Linked DNA regions of Homo sapiens: region 2 is linked to region 1. Evidence: fine-mapped expression QTL. A gene starts in region 1. The other region holds a variant in brackets. All regions are shown on one strand. Distances are between the middles of the regions. Region 1 holds the start of GALNT14 (polypeptide N-acetylgalactosaminyltransferase 14). Region 2 overlaps GALNT14 (polypeptide N-acetylgalactosaminyltransferase 14).

What was found.
Region 2: its variant is fine-mapped to the expression of GALNT14 in whole blood (TOPMed, PIP above 0.99).

What each region holds. Positions count from the first base shown.
Region 1 is chr2:31,135,096-31,143,427 of GRCh38, reverse strand. It overlaps GALNT14 (polypeptide N-acetylgalactosaminyltransferase 14), which reads left to right and starts at 4,988. Exons shown (of 15, transcript NM_024572.4): 1 at 4,988-5,470. The coding sequence starts at 5,342.
Region 2 is chr2:31,008,869-31,017,200 of GRCh38, reverse strand. The region is part of intron 1 of GALNT14 (polypeptide N-acetylgalactosaminyltransferase 14); the gene reads left to right. Among named protein-coding and RNA genes, the nearest start is that of GALNT14, 130 kb to the left of the region's middle. The variant A/C (reference allele first, on the strand shown) is at 4,486.

The DNA.
Region 1 (8,332 bases):
AAGTCCTAGCCAGACTGGAGAGGCCCCATCACAGTTCTATTCCTTCTTGGATTTGAGCTCTCCTGCCCACTTCTACCTTTCACTGATGCCTCTAAGCTTAAGCCTAACAGGAAAGACTGTCTTTGTCAGAGATAATGCAAGTGGCTCTCAGATTTGGTTGTCTGAAATTGGGGACCTGGGGAGTGACATCTGTCCTTAGATCCTTCTATTTCTTCTGCCTGTGCTGCCCTCTGTCAGAGTCTCCTCTAGATAATTCAAGGGAAATAATTTTCTTTTTCTTTCTTTTCTATTTTTTTTTTTTTTTGATGATGGAGTTTTGCTCTTGTTGCACAGGCTGGAGTGCAATGGCGTGATTTCAGCTCACTGCAACCTCCGCTTCCCGGATTCAAGCCATCCTCCTGCCACAGCCTCCCGAGTAGCTGGATTACAGGTGCCTGCCACCATGCCCGGCTAATTTTGGTATTTTTTAAAAGAGACGGGGTTTCGCCATGTTGGTCAGGCTGGTCTCAAACTCCTGACCTCAAGTGATCTGCCCGCCTCGGCCTCCCAAAGTGCTGGGATTACAGGCGTGAGCCACTGTGCAGGTCTCTTTTACTTTTCTTTAGGCAAACTGGGTCACACCTTCATGCTAGAACTTTGCATATTCTATAGGGGCTGGGGGGGGGGTGGGGGAAATTTCTCAGATCACCACAGGGCACCATCACTGAAGATCAAACCACTTTACACAACCAGCAAAGACATATCATTGTAGCAGTATTAAGTTTTACACTTGGCATTTGGGTGAGAAACAAAGAAAGTTTGGGGCATTTCAAACAATAAAAGAAGCAGGCTTTTGAAATGCAAAGATATAGATCCCTTTCAAGGAATCGAATATAAGAATAAAAGGAGGGAGAGGAGTTGAGGGTAGTGGGCTGGTGAAAGGAGTTGTTTAATGGAAAGAGAAAGATCCAGAAAGGTGACTGTCAGATCCCTTAGATAAAGCCACCCATCTACCCGTCAAAGATGAGAGGAAAATCCAGCTGGCTTTATTCTTTTGACAAAGATTCACTGATGTGGCAGAAAGATGAGGTAAGGGGTTGGTAATAGCTCATCCTCATTCACCACGTGGTTTAAACTATTCCATCACTCACTCTATAAGAAAGCCTTGCAGGAAACCCAGGACATGCGGTTTTGACAGGATCTATAGTGGCAAGGAAAATGGAGAGGAACACAGAGGAAAGGGGAGCTGATGTATTATTTACAGTGGAGAACTTGAACAGAGTCAACTGCAGGAGTCAGCCCAAAGACTTGTATCTGTATGACTGTGGAATAAAGACAGACAGATCTTTGAATTTTCACTGCCGCTCTTTTTGCTGCTGGGCCAGCATGTGTGCGACTCATCTTCTCACTGTGCTGCAATCTGCCCTGCTACTGCTTACCTTTCCCTATGGCCCAGAAGAGGTAAAGACCTCAACAGAAACCTGTCTGGGCCTCTGTGGGTGAAATTTCGTTAGGTTGGCACAGAGGGTGTCTCGCTGATTGTGACAGGTCTAATAAGCGTGCAGATGGCAAGAAGCACACACACAGCCACTCGCGCACACACAGCCTCCCTGAAGTCATGCAGTGGGCAGAGAGGAGGGACTCAGAGAATCTGATCCAAAAGGAACAAAGGCTGCAGCCTCTGCAGTGGGCTGAGCGAGAATGATGGGGAGACGGCTACAGGAAACGAGAAGCGAAGTGTGAGAATCCACAGCAAAAGCCGCCACAGAGCATATGCATCGGACTTCACAGCTTCCTCCTGCTTCCAGCTTGCATTTGCTCCATATGCTGCTTTACACTGCTTTCCGGGCCATAATGGGTTTCATTCCATAGTTTTTATACTAACATGAATGACTCACATCTGCTCCAGTACCCAATTTGCTCTCTAATGTCTTCGGCTGTGAGGAGAGAACAGCTTACACAGAACTCGCCAACAACAGGAGTGGTAAAGAAGGTCCTGATCCAGGACAAGAAAGGTCAGAACCCTAAATGCGTCAGCTGGGAGGGTCTTTGAGAGAACATGACATTGCCGATGGGAAACCACAGACCCAGAGGAATGAGGAGCTTGGCTCAACAATATCAAGACTGAGGAGGTAGATCTGTTTTAGGAGATCCAGGAGAACCAGGAGAGTCCTAGTTCAGAGTGTATTTATTTTTTTTCATTTCCTGCCATGTTAAGTCTTTTGCTAGGAGCTTTTCCTCCCCATATTGGCTGTGATAAGAAAAAAGTAACTTGGATTAATCGCCAATGATAGCTAATCCCCCGCTGGGATCAACCATACTCTGCATTACTTAAGCTTGTTATTTTATTTATTCATTTTTTGAGACAGGGTCTCGCTCCATCACCCAGGCTGGAGTGCAGTGGTGAGATCATAGCTCGCTGCAGCCTCAAAATCCTGGGCTCAAGTAATCCTCCTGTCTTAGCCTCCCAATTGGCTGGGACTAGAGACACCTGCCACTTCGCCTGGCTATTTTGTTGTTGTTGTTGTTGTTTAGAGACAAGCTCTCGCTATGTTGCCCAGGCTTAAAGCTGGTTATTAAAGCGTTTCAAATATATTCCTGAGCATGGGGGACCCCTGGATAGACTGGGTTCCTGGAGAGACCTACAGAACTAGGCCCCGCATGGACACTCACTTCACTTCCAGATGTTTGAAGTCCCACTTGAAATCTACTTCAGTCCTAATGATATTTACTGGTTTGACAACCCAAACTGATATCTGATATGATCTCTGGATGGATCAGCTAATGACACCTAGCAAAACTGGATTCCCTTGACAGCTTCCATAGGCCCAGGAAATCTTCCTCACTTGAGTAGAGGACAAAATAATGATTTGAGAAGAAAATCATTCCTGGAAGGAAATTCCCACTCTCTGAGACATTGCAGTCCCTGCACGGAGCTGCCTTCACCCCAGGGCCTCAGTTTCCCCATATGCCAAACAGTCAGAATGAGGCACCTCAGCATCTCAGCAGTGTGGTGAGCAGCGTGGTGGTGCTGCACCATCTCAAAAGCTTGGCGGTGTTCTTGTGTAACTGTCTGCCATCTGTTACTCAGAAGCGGCATTACAAAGCGCTGAGCAATGGACTCCTGTGCTGCAGCTTCTGCCTGGAGCCAACAGCAGCTCAGCAGCTTGCCTGGGGGTCCCCTGCAGAGCCTGCAGCAGAACGCTTTGCAGGCCCGAAACTGCAGGTCCCGGGTGAGGCTCCTGAAAGAGGTCCAAGGTGCTTGGGATGCTGCAGAGGTGAGTTCTCTTGCTGCTCCCCCTACCCCTCCCATGATGATCATCTACCTGGGCCTTTGCTGGGACAAAGCATTGGCTGGGGAGCCTACTCCCACCTTTCAGTGTTCAGAGTTCTGATAAAGGCAAATGCTAGATCAACCCTGGGGTTCTGTGTGATGGTCTAAGAGCGCAGGTAGATCTTGAAAGGGCTGGCAACAGTGCTCACCTTTTCTGGGCTGTTTAATTTCAACTGCGGTTCCCAACCCCAAACATCTTATCTACAGTCCAGTCAAGAACTCTCTGAGGTTGAGGCAGGACTTCCCTGTGGCTGAAAGATAAGGTACCAAAAACAGGAGGCTTTGAGTAGACGCCTCCATTTCTCAGTACATGTCTTTGGGGAGACATCTTATTGAAGAAGGAATTCCAGAGCCCTGATTTACAGCTGTCTCACCTGTGCGGAGGTATGGGAGCTTGCCCTACACTGAGCTTTATGGGGAGAGAGGGGCAGGGAGAATGGTGGCTGCCACAGTGGGTGCATCGTTCTCACCTCCCCAAGAAACTCGATGAAGCAAGCAACCCTCCAACAAAAATGGCATGGTTCCCGCTGCCTCTGCTCCCCAGACAGAGCAAGGTTTCCCCACTTTGAGTGGTCAGATAACACCAGCACCTTGCATTCAGCTTTCACCACTACTCATTTGCTTGTCAGAGGAGGTATTTTCCCTCCATTTTACAGATGAGGAATCGAAGACTGGGAGAAGGTAAATGACTTACCCAAGACTCACACAGTGAGTGTGACAGCTAGGTCAGTACTCTCTGGTCAGTGATCTGGCCGTGATTCCAGCCTACTTGAGCCTACATGGGAATTGGAGTTAGAATTTGCTTTGCTTCTAGATCCAAGCGGTTTTAATCTGCAAGTGGGAGGGGGATACAATTCCCAAAGGCCCTTGGGAAAAGGGGCTTTTGAAAGATCACCCTCTGCACCCAGTATCCTCCTGCCCAGGGTCACTTTCCAAGAATCCCAAGTGGTTGTTCCAACTTTGGACCTCTTTTCTTGCAAGCACAAAGCCCTGATGCTTACAGGGAGAGAAAACCTTTATGGGAGATAATTGCGCCTTAATTTTTTAAAGGATATCTTTAAAGTTAAAATTAGACCAGCTCAGCTTTCCTTCCGTTAAGCAGAAAAAGTTACCAGGCACCTGCAGGCAGGCATAGAAACACCCTGGGGAGTTGGCTGACCGCGGCCTTGGCCCTCAGTAGCCAGGCAAGTGAACCGCGGGTTTGGGGCAGCAGCCCTGCCGGCGCCCTGGAATCCCAGCCTTGGCTGTGGTAGGACGAGCACATTGGGGGTGGGACCCCGGCTTCAGCGCCACGTGCAGCCCCCGCGATGAGCGGGAAAGTCCTCCCAGGCACAGCGCCGCCTGGCGAGGGCCGGCCCTTGGGTCCCAGCTGGCAGCTGGGGGTGGCGGGCATCCCGAGTGCACCGCTCCCGCCCCGCCCCGCCTTGCCCCAACCCACGATGGTCTGGGAGCTGCGCCCAGGGCTTGGCGCTGGCGGCCCCGCAACAGCACCGAGCGTTTCGGTCGGCGGGCGGCGGTAGCGCCCCCTCTCAGAGCCCCGCTCACTCCCACCTGGGCTCGCTCCGAGTCGGCCTGTCTGTCGGGCCCGCCCTCCCCGCTCACTCCCTCCGCCCTCGTGCTCCTCCCGGGGTGCTTGGCACAGCCTCGGATTCCTCCCTCTCGCTGCTCGAGTCAGTTTCCCTATCGGCGGCAGCGGGCAAGGCGGCGGCGGCGGCGGCGGCAGCCGCGGTGGCGGCGTGGGGAACATCTCGGCAGCCACCGCGCTTCTCCCGCTGGAGCGGGCGTCCAGCTTGGCTGCCCTCGGTCCTTCCCTGCCACGTTTCGGGTCGCCCTGCACCCCCCACCCAGGCTCGCTTCTCTTCGAAGCGGGAAGGGCGCCTTGCAGGATCCTGCCGCCCCTCCAACCGGATCCTGGGTCTAGAGCTCCCCAGAGCGAGGCGCTCGCCAGGACTCCTGCCCCGCCAACCCTGACCGCCGGGGGGTGCCCCCGGGACGTAGCGCCGCGGAGAGGAAGCGGCAAAGGGGACCATGCGGCGCCTGACTCGTCGGCTGGTTCTGCCAGTCTTCGGGGTGCTCTGGATCACGGTGCTGCTGTTCTTCTGGGTAACCAAGAGGAAGTTGGAGGTGCCGACGGGACCTGAAGTGCAGACCCCTAAGGTAGGCGGCTTGCCGGCGCGCTGGCGCTGAGCGGTGGCTTGCGGGAGGGCGCGCAGCCCGCGTGCCGGGTTTGCGGGCTCCCGGGAAACCAGGGCGAGGGTCTGGGTGCTGCGAGCAGGTAACAGCCGCCGGATGTGGCTACCATGTGATGTTTCTGGATTTTAAAACGCTCGGGGGCATCTCCGGACCCGCGGTGTGCATGAGTGGCAGTGGGTGTGGGTGGTGGGCGCGCGCTCGCCTGCGGAGCGGGGCTCCCAACTTGAGCTGCGCGCGAGGGTCCCGGGGCGGAGGGGGCTCTGCGGACGGGCGGCCCAGGGGCTGGCGGTCTCCGGGCGCTGCCAGAGAGTCGCCGGCGGTCGGGTCGGGCCAGCGCCCGGGCGAAGTGTGGCGGCTGCGCTGACCTCCTTCCCGCAGCTGCCAGGCCCGACCTGGGGAGGCCGGAGGCCGGGTGCGCCGCGCGCGCCTGTGCGTTGCGGGCGAGCGCCTTGCAGCCTCCCGGGCGGCTGCCACCCCTGTTCTCTAACTGTTCCCGACCCTCTCAGCTGCATTGGAAGTTGAATGTGCCCAGAACACCACGAAAGAGCCTGTAAAAACAGACGCCTTGGTATTGGCGGGGAGTTGAGGAAATGGGAATCCAAGTGGCTTTTCCAACTCCTGCTCAGTCAGTTCCTGTGAGGGAGCCAGAAGGTTCCCCCTATAGGCTCACTCTTACCTTCAGATTCAGAGCCCTGTAGGGGGAAAGGGAAAACTTCCCCATGGCTCTCCGAAGGTTCACTGAAAATCAGTTGACAAAAGGCAGATCAATAGGAGAAAAGGCATAATAATTTATTTGATCATAGTTTTTCGTGACATGGTAGCCTTCCGTTTTCTCTTCACAGATTTGGCCCGGGGACACGGAAGGAGGCCTCTGGGGGATTTCCTGGCCAGCCAGGCAGTCTTTATAAACTGGGTCCAGAACAGTCGTCTAGGGGTCTGGGCAAAAGCCTTGGAGGAGCTTATGGTCGGAAATGGGAGACTGAAAAACAGGAAGATGTGGGCGGGAGGTGGCGTCTCACCAGTTAAGTACAGTACAGAGGGCCTACTGTGTGCCAGGTGCATAGTAGGTGCCTTCCTCATAAGTAGTTGTAGGAGTTGGGTGGTAATATGCTTGTTTCATAGATCAGGAAAACAGGTTCAGGGTCTTTAAGTCACGTACCTTAAGTCGTTCTACTGGTTTGAACTCCAGCCTCCACGCTCAGGGTTTCCAGTATATCAAGTTGCCTCTCGGTTTCCCCTTTTTAACCAAGTCTTCTAGCACTTATGTTCTGGAATCTTGCCAATGCTTTGTCGATTTCAACAAGCATTTATTTAGCACCTATTGTGTGCTCAGGCAGTGTGTTAGGTGCTATGGGTAGAGAGAGATAGAATTTACTCTCTGGGGGGAGAGGAGTTCACTCATCATTGGACCAGGATGTGAGGTGTGCATAGGGCTAAGAGGGTTCAGTGCACTGGGTGTCATGGGAGCCTGAGGTCTCCCTGGAGGAGGAGGACATAACAGAGCTGAGCTGAGAAGGATAAACAGGTTTGTCAGTAGGTAGAAAGGGCATTCCAGGTAGAGGTTAACTGCATGAAACAGGCTCAGAGGAATGACACAGCACGTTGTGTGAGTTTGGCATAATTTGAGCACAAAGTATGTGGAGGTTGGAGGGATAAAGTTTAGGGAGGTGTGTAGGGGCTGGGTGGGGTAGAATCTTGTGGGTGTGAGGACTCTTGGAGAGGGTCAGGCAGTGAGGTGGCGAGGCCAGATTGATGACTTCAAACCACCTTTAATAGCACCAGATCACTTTTCTCACTCAGCCCCTGCCCATAGATCTGGAGAGCTTTTCTTCTTTTTCCCTAGGTGGTTCTGCTCCCTGTGATGTAGTTAATGATACCTGCAGGGACATGAACTTTCTCTGTTTTGCTTCGACCCTCATTACCTTAAGCTTGCTTATTCTTAGTTTACACCAGGGATCTGGGACAAGAGACCTGTTTCTTTCTTTGTGCACTCTTTGTCCCTCCTCCTCTCCTGCCTCTTCTTATCCTGGCGTGTGCTCAGCACACATCTATCACAGGCAGCTGTATGCCAGGCTCTGTGCTGGGTTTGGGGGCTGCTATGATGAGCACGCTGTGTCCCTGTCCTTTGGCATGGGGGTGGGGGGCCACATAAGTTGCAGGATGAGGCAGAATTACCAACAAATGAGTGGTACTTTAAGGTGGGGAGTGGTTTAGTAGCAGAAGTCAGGACATTGTACTGTGCAGTCACAAAAGAGGAGGTTTTCTAGTTTTGAACCAGTTGCTCTTTGTCTTAACATCTTGTTCCTTCTTTTCCTCATTTTCTGTATCCTTCTAGAACCATGAATTTTTATAGACTTAGAAAATCTTGACACCTCTTACTATTAGGTGTCTTCTTTTTTTTTTGTTAGTATTTTTCTTCTTCCTGTTTTTCCCTTGTATGTATGTCGCTCTGTATCTTAGTGTGTATGTACCTGAGAAGAGAGGAAGAAAGACAGAGACTCCTTAGGTAACGCCAGAACAGTTTTATTCCCTGTGACTTTGTATGACAAGTCCAAATTTATATGACATGTCCAAAGGAGCACAGTGGTACCGAAACCTGGCTGCATGTCAGAATCACCTGGTGAGCTCCATTAACATGCAGATTTTTGGGCTTACTACAGAGATTATGCCTCTGTGAGTTTGGGAGAAGGTTCTAGAATTACTGTTTTTACCAGGGTTGCATGTGATTCTGAAGCAGCCTATTGATGGGTGGCATTTGGGAGCTAGATGAAGAATACCAAGTCTGTTGATCGTGGTTTGGTTGGCTGCATGTAAATATGGTCAAAT
Region 2 (8,332 bases), 130 kb after region 1:
CCATGGACATGGAGGAAGATTAGAGTCTTAGGAACCTTTCTGAAAATGTGGGAACAAAATTCATATATAAAGCAGAAATGGCATTAACAGAAAGAGCATGGGCCAGACAGACTGGGGTCCAAATTAGAAGTCTGCCATAGCTAGCTTTGAGACCCTTGCTTAACCATAAAGTGATCATCACATTATTTGCCTTGCAGGGTTTTTGAGGATTCAGTGAATAATGTGTACGGTTCGTCCAGCACAGAGCGTGGTATGTTGTGAGGATGATAGCTAACACCTCGTGATCCCTTTTGTGTGCCAGGCACTATCCTAAGCTTTGTAGGTAGTGCTTTGTGTCTTGAGTCAGATTCCATAGAAGCAGAGCCTTGTAAATTTAATGAGAGCACTCCCAGGAGGAGGGGAGTGAGGGAAGCAAGACAGGGCAGGCGGGGGAAGATGCTCTGCAAGGATGTATCTCATAGTAGGAGATTTCAACCTGGTTCCAAGGGGAGCCTTGGAGAAGAGATTGCTCAGCCACTGGCACCAGTTGCTCCCTGGAGTTGGGGATATACCTCCCAGGAGAGGCAGGTCTTGTTCTGGGGGGCAGGTCTCTGTAGAAGTTTGCAGCCAGCACTCCTAGCAGCTGAGAGATGGGTGTGCAGGCCCAGTGGAAGGAGTTCGTGTGGGGCACAGTGGCACCCACTGTGGTTCATCCCTCTATCCTGGTACAGCTTCTCTGGGATTCTGTTTAGTCCCAGTTTCTAGGAAGCTCTGTAAGGAAAGGTGTAATCGCCTGAATTGTGTCCCTTCTCTACCCTCTACCATTCATACGTTGGAGCTCTAACCCCCATGTGACTGTATTTGGAGAGATGGCCTATAAGGAGGTAATCAAGGTTGGCATAATACAATCTGATTGGTGTCCTTACAAGAAGGGAAGATTAGAAATCCAGAAAGAGACATTGGGGATGTACACACAGAGAAAAAACCACATGAGGACTCAGCCAGAAGACGGCCATCTGCGGGCCAAGTGGAGAGGCCTCAGGAGAAACTAACCCTGTTCGCACGTTGATCTTGGACTGCCAGCGTCCAGAGCTGTGAGAAAATAAACTTCTGTTGTTTAAGCCCCGTGGTCTATGGTGTTTTGTGATGGTAGCCCGAGCGGATCCATGCAGAAGGGCTAGTAGAGCAAACTCTAGGCCCTGCTGCTGCAATTGTTTGTGACTCTCATCATCTCCTTCCTCCTCTACCCATTCTAGATTTCATGCCCCCTCAGCCTGCTTCAAGGTCTCGTTTAGGCAGCTTGTCTGGTGGGATGATCCCAGTGGCTCTGGTTACCAAGCCAGGATCCACCTTGCATTTAATTGTAATAGTCTCTTCCAATCTGTGATGTCTTTCCTTGTCTTACGTGACCTTGACACGCTGAAGAGTTCTAGTCAGTTGTTTTGTAGAATGTCTCTCCATTGGGTTTGTCTGATGTTTTCTCCAGATTAGACTGAAGCTACGTGTTTTTGGCAAAAATACTACAGACGTGGTGTTGAGCCCTTGTCAGTACATCCTTATAGGGGATATGTGATATTGATATGTTTTATTACTGGTAATGTTAATCTTGATTGCTTGGCTAGGGTGGTACTGGCCAGCAGTCTCCATCATAAAATTACTCTTTTTTTCCCTTTTGCCATTAGTACATTGGAGGATGTACTTTGAGACTTTGCAGACATTCTGATTCATCTCAACTGTTAGCCCATCGATTTTAGTATAGATGGAGGCAGATTTTCCGGACCCTTTTTATAAGGCAGAGTTGCCTTCTTTCTGCAATTCTCCTGTCAGGAGTGGATTTGGGGTGCCCTGCAGAGGCTGTAGTCACTAACTCTCAACTCTCACTGGCAGAGAGTGAGTTCCCATCTCTTTTTTTTTTTTTTTTTTTCCTTTGAGATGGATGTTAGCTCTTGTCACCCAGGCTGGAGTGCAATGGTACGCTCTTGGCTCACTGCAACCTCAGCCTCCCAGGTTCAAGCGATTCTCCTGCCTCAGCCTCCCAAGTAGCTGGGATTACAGGAGTGCACCACTATGCCCAGCTAACGTTTTTGTATTTTTAGTAGAGATGAGGTTTCACCAAGTTGGTCAGGCTGGTCTCAAACTCCTGACCTCAGGTGATCCACCCACCTCAGCCTCCCAAAGTGCTGGGATTACAGGCATGAGCCACGGTGCCCGGCCAAGCTCCTGCCTCTTTAAAGCTAGCGAGTGGTTGATTCTTCAGAGGCCACAGAACTTTAGCCCTTCCCTCCCTCCTTTATGCATTCCCTCACCTGCTAATTTACACTTCTGTCTCATGTTTCCTTCTCCTTCCTCTTCCTTTCTCTGGGGTTCTTGTTGAATTAATTATGGCAGGAAAGACTGGTGTAAGGGTACAACCCACACAGAACTTTGCACTCTATATACATGGTAAACGCAGGGGTGCTTTAGGGATCATTGACTCCTACCCTCTTATTCTACGATGAGGAAATAGGGAGAGTTCAAGTGACTTGCTCAAGGTCACACTGCTAGTGGGTGGCAGATAGATTGGGTCTAGAATCTGACTTGCTGACCTACATGTATCGTGTGTCCCAGCATGCTGCGTTCCTCAGGGCTAGTCATATGGGGACCTGTTCAGGCCTTCAGAAGGGGGCATCCACTGGCAAGCAGCTGGATCCACACTGCTTCTCACCATGCCCCTGCCAGGAGGTGAAGGCTTGCTTTTCCTTCAGTCTTCAGTTTCTCTGCCTCAGTCCTGGGGAAAAGAGTTTGCTCTCTGTGTGGTTGGAAACTGGGGGCCCAATGCCTCTCTGTGGGAGGGGCTTCTCCCTGCAATGAGTTGCAACATTGTGAATTGATACAGCAACCTACTGGAGAGCCCAGAGCCTCACTAGCTATCCAGATCCAGAGCTGATGGGTACCCCCTTGCCTTTTTTGGGGAGGAAGGGGGAAGGGAGATGTTCACTTTTATTCTCATCTTTAGTCAGCTTCTCCTCTTAATTGACATTTACTATGTGCAAGCCACTGCTTTTTACCTACAGTATTTTCATTTAATTCTTAAAACCCTGTGAAATAGGCATTATTCTCCCCATTTTACAGGTGATGGAACTGAGGTTCAAACAGGTTAAGCAGCTTCCTCCAAATCACATAAACAGTAAGCAGTGGAGCCAGTGTCAGAGCATAGGTCTTGAGAAAATTTAGGTTCATCTGTTTTCATTCCTTAAGTGCAGCTTTCATGAAATCTTACAGGGACAGAAACTTAAAGCCATTGTCTGCACAATCGTTATTTTTAGATTGTCAGAGTCTATAACACTTTTGTAGTGTTTCATGACCATTCCCATAGCTGTTTACTTTTAGTTTTGTAATTACATAGATTCAGTGCTCTACTGGTTCTTCTGCTCCATTCTTGGGTTTTTTATTTTGAACCACCTCTTCATTGACTGCATGTGGGAACAAAATTCATATATAAAGCAGAAATGGCATTAACAGAAAGAGCATGGGCCAGACAGACTGGGGTCCAAATTAGAAGTCTGCCATAGTGGATTCTAGTGGCTGCTTCAAAATGGGCTCATAGGTGCTGTCATCCCTGAGCTTGGATGTGGGAATATCACACTCCTGCTGTCCGTACTTGAACGGCACCTCAGCAGGTTAAAATGCTTCTGGTCACATTTGGACTCAGCCCCGTGGGTGTTGCTTCATTATCCGCTGACATGGAAAGCTGCCGCGGGGAAGTTTGAGGTCAGCTGAACATTTCCCCTTCTGTAGGTGACTTGTTGGTTCTGCCTGGGTGCTTGATGATTTCTTTCTTGCATTTGGAAGTTCGATACCTAAACCAGGAAACATCTTCGTGTCAATCCCTTTGTATCAATTTTTTATGGAATGTGGTGTGCAATTTTGATGTGCAGACTCAGATCTTTATTCATCTCAGGAGGTTTTTATTTAAAAAGATGAAGACTGTTTTGTGTGTTCCATCTGTTTCTCTGCTTCAGGTTCACCAGTTTTCTGATGTTGGATCACCTTTGCTCTTTCTATACATTTTATTCTCTCCTGTAGTTGCTTTAATAATTTAAATCTTTCTCCTCTGAGTCCCAGTGACTTGCCCAAGGTCCCACTGCTCAAGAGTGTCAGAGCCAGGACTGGAACCCTTTAGTTGGTATCAGTAATTAGATTTCCTGCTGTGCCTGCACTGCTTCTTGGAGTTTCAACATGTATTTATTGGTTCTGCAAAAGTGTTTTGTGGTTCTCAGTTTTATCATTCTTTATTCCATTGCTTTATTTAATCATCTAATCCTTTAGCTCTTATTTTATTAAATTCATGCTTTTAAGCTATTCCATAGCATGAAGCACGTTTGGGTAATTTCCTTCCATTTGTTTAGTTGTTTTTATTTAGACTGGGGTTTTTGTTTTGTGTGTGTGGGTGGTGTTGTTTTTGGATTTTTTTTCATACTGTGTTCCATTTTGTTGGTTTGTTTGGTTTTGGTTTTGGCCCCACCC[A/C]CACAGGGGCATGTTTGCATCATTGCCATGCAGTTCCTTTGCATCTTGCTTGACCTACACACCCTGATTCAGGGCAAGTTCATTCTTAACCCTTTTTTCACCATGTCTGAGCCTGTTCATTTCCTCCACAAGGCATAGTTTGAGGGCTGTGAGTTCTGTGTCTGTCCCCTTGTCTGTAGCCTGAGGGCCTTGGTGGAGTGAGGTGGGAAGGGAGAGCTGCACTGAGGCTGTGAGCAGTTTTTATTACCAACCTCTCAGAGAGAAAAGCCACACTCCTGCCTCCAGGACACACGCTGTTTTGTGGAAGAGACCCAATAAACAGGTAACTATAGGTGCTGCCATAAGAAGAGGGGACACTATTAGGTTGCAGGGACCAGATTTGCTTGCTTCCTTAAAGTCATGGTGGTGGCAGTTTAATGGAAGGATGCCAGTGTGTGGGAACCAGGGTTAAGCCAGACCAAAAGTCCAGGGCAGTACTTGCAGACCACGGCAAAGAACTTGGCCTTTATTCTGTGAGTGGGATCCAACCGTGTCTTAGAAGAGCCATTCCAGCAGCAGTGTGAAAAATTAAATACAGGTCTAAAGACATAAATCCCCAGCGCTTATCTGTTGGTCGGCTCTGCAAAGAGAATGAGGAGATATCTTCTGTACTGGAAACTGTCACCAAGGAGTAGAGAATTTCCTGAGCAGACTGGCGTTCCCCACCCTTCTTTGCCCCTGCCCGTTTCAAACACCTTCAGCTCCTGGGCATCAGCTGAAGAATGCCTAGCTTTTCCCCAGTGCTGTGGATCTCTGGAGATGTGTTTCCCGGCTGAGCGTTATGGCAGCCAGAGCCAGGCGGCACGTCCAGAGAACACATCTCAAGGTTGTTGTTTGAAGTACAAACAGAGCAGGGACCAATTATGGAGTCCCTCTGCACAGCATGCCTCCTGACTGTGCTCGGCATGGGGTGGGCAGAGGCTGGCAGAGCTGAGGAGCCAGCTTTGGCCCCCTGAGGGGTAGCTGGGAGGGAGAAGGGAGAGTATCATAGATTTATTTGCTGCCAGACAGGTCTGCCAGTGTGAGCTCATCTTTCAGAGAGGCGCCCTCTCCTCTTAACAGCCAGGTGCCTCCTGTGGCCCCAGGGTGGCACTGGATCCTAGATCCTGTGAGCAGAATTTTGCATCTATTTCTGGGGAAGAAAAGACCATGGCTTCTATTACACTGAAAAATAGGGCCCTGTCTCCTCAAATAGTTAAGGATGCCTCTGCTATGTAACCCCTATATTTTATAGGTGGGAAAAGTAACCAGAGACCCAGTGAGCAGAAATGGTTTACCCGAGGATTCAAGGTTGTGGAGGCCAGATCTAAAAGTCAGCTCTTACTGCCCCATGGACATACAACGTTGTCTTCACTTTGCTACCAAAGTGGTAGCTATTCTTTTTTGAGTGCTAAAAGTATGCCTGGCACAGAGCTTAGTGCTTTACTTATTTTAGTCCATTAGATCCGTAAAATGGCATCACAGTTTTGCAGAATAGACAGCCAGACAGCTAACTCTCAGTTGAGGGAGAGAGGTTAAGTCACTTCCCAAGGTCACAGAGACAGTAACTGGAGGAGAGATTGCAGACCCAGCTCTCGTGGGTGTCCACCCTCCCTATCCCTTCCCTCCCTCCTTCCTGTGCTTCTGTCTCAGTCTAGTTAATTCCTGTAGGCCTAGGCCAAGGCTTGCCTCCCTGCTGAACCTCTCCCTGATGGCACCAGCCCTTGCTGGTCTTCTCTTTTCTGAAAAGCCAGGCCCATTGAAAGTTTTTTGTAGGCAAAATGGTTCTGGTTTCCCATCTTGCCACTTCCTTGCTGGCCACAGTTGATCAGATTGAGAGTATTCCAGGCAGAAAGCCCTATGAGATGGGATGAGATGGATGAGAAAGGGAAGAACGGCCAGTGTGGCTGGAACATAATGAGCTAAGAGGGATGGGGAGGGGTAAGTGTGGAGAGTTTGCAGGTTCTGATCAGGCAGGGCCTTGGGGGCCACAGGAAAGAGTGAGGACAGCATTCTGAGTGCAGTGGGAGCCGCTGGAGGGATTCTGAGCCAGAATGGGAGAGACGGGAACGAATGTCATCTTGAGACAGAGTCTCTCTCTGTTGCCCAGGCTGGAGTGCAGTGGCGCAATCCCGGCTCACTGCAAGCTCCACCTCCCGGGTTCACGCCATTCTCCTGCCTCAGCCTCCCAAGTAGCTGGGACTACAGGTGCTCACCACCCCGCCCGGCTAATTTATTTATTTATTTATTTTTTGTATTTTTAGTAGAGATGGGGTTTTACCGTGTTAGCCAGGATGGTCTGGATCTCCTGACCTCGTGATCTGCCCGCCTTGGCCTCCCAAAGTGTTGGGATTACAGGCATGAGCTACCACGCCCAGCCACAGATGTCGTTTTTAAGAAGGCGACTTTGGGCCAGGCGCAGTGGTTCACGCCTGTAATCCCAGCACTTTGGGAGGCTGAGGCAGGTGGATCACCTGAAGTCAGGAGTTTGAGACCAGGCTGACCAACATGGTGAAACCCCGTCTCTACTAAAAAGATACAAAAATTAGGCAGATGTGGTGGTGGGCTCCTGTAATCCCAACTACTCAGGAGACTGAGGCATGAGAACCGCTTGAACTCAGGAGGCGGAGGTTGCAATGAGCCAAGATCATGCCATTGCACTGCAGCATGGGTGACAGAGCAAGACTATGTCTAAAAACGAAACAAAACAAAACAAGGTGACTTTGGAAAATGAATTGGAGGGATCAAATGCAGTATTCCAGAATGCAGTTGGTGGTGGTTGGGTATGGTTGTAGAGATGGGAAAAGGAGGGTGGCTGGATGGAGGCATGCTTTGCAGGCAGAACCAACAGGACATGGGGATGGGTTAGTTGTGTGTGGGTTCAAGTGATTAGAGTGAGATTTAGAATGAGGAAGAAGGAATTGTCGAGGGTAACTCTCAGATTCCTGACTTGTGCAGCTATGTGGCTGGTGGTGCCATTTCTTTACTTGTGAAAGCCTGGAAGAGGCACCAGTTCCAATGGGCAAATCAAGAGTTCCATTTGAAATCCATGCAAGGTGAGATGCTTGTGAGACCTTAAGTGGGCATGTCCAGTAGGCGTTTTTTTGATATTGTTCTGGAGCTCAGAAAAGAGATCTGGGCTGGAAAACTATATTGGAATCCTCCATCTATAGAAGGTTGTCAAGGCACAGGAATGGAGGAAGTCACCTGTAGGGAGAGTGTAACGAGTGGAGAGGAGGGACCAGGGCTAAATCCATGCACACTTCCAACAATGAGAAATCAGGGGAAGGGAGGAGCCAGAGAAGGAAATGAAGAAGATGCCAAAGTCTGAGAAGCCCAGGAGAAAGTATTCTGAAACAGAGAGACAAGGACCCTCGAAGGGGGGCTTTTCCAGGGGGTAGGATGTTGCTGAAGGGCCAAGGAAGATGAATGTGCCAAATTGTGCCTTAGTGCTGAGCATCCAGTAGGTGCCCAATAAATGTGAGATCCTCTTCCTTGCCCTCTGCCTCCTCCATTTGTTCTTCTTTCATTCTTTCTGCATATCTATTGGCCTTTTCCCTCAGTTTACAGTAAGAACTCAAGAAATAATGAATAAATAAATGAATGCATGAAGTGAATGAATGAAGTGAATTGCAAGTTCTGCTGTCATTATCTCCCCTCCTGCAGCCCGGGGCATTGATTTTGTTCAAGGGCTAAGCCAGATGCAAGTTTCCTGGGAACCTATGGCCCTTGTCTAGCAGAGGGCCCTCCAGGGAGCCATTTCTCATGCTTGTCTGGCATCCTGGCCTGAGCAGTGCCACATGGTCCCCGGCCACCCGTGCAGGGAGCC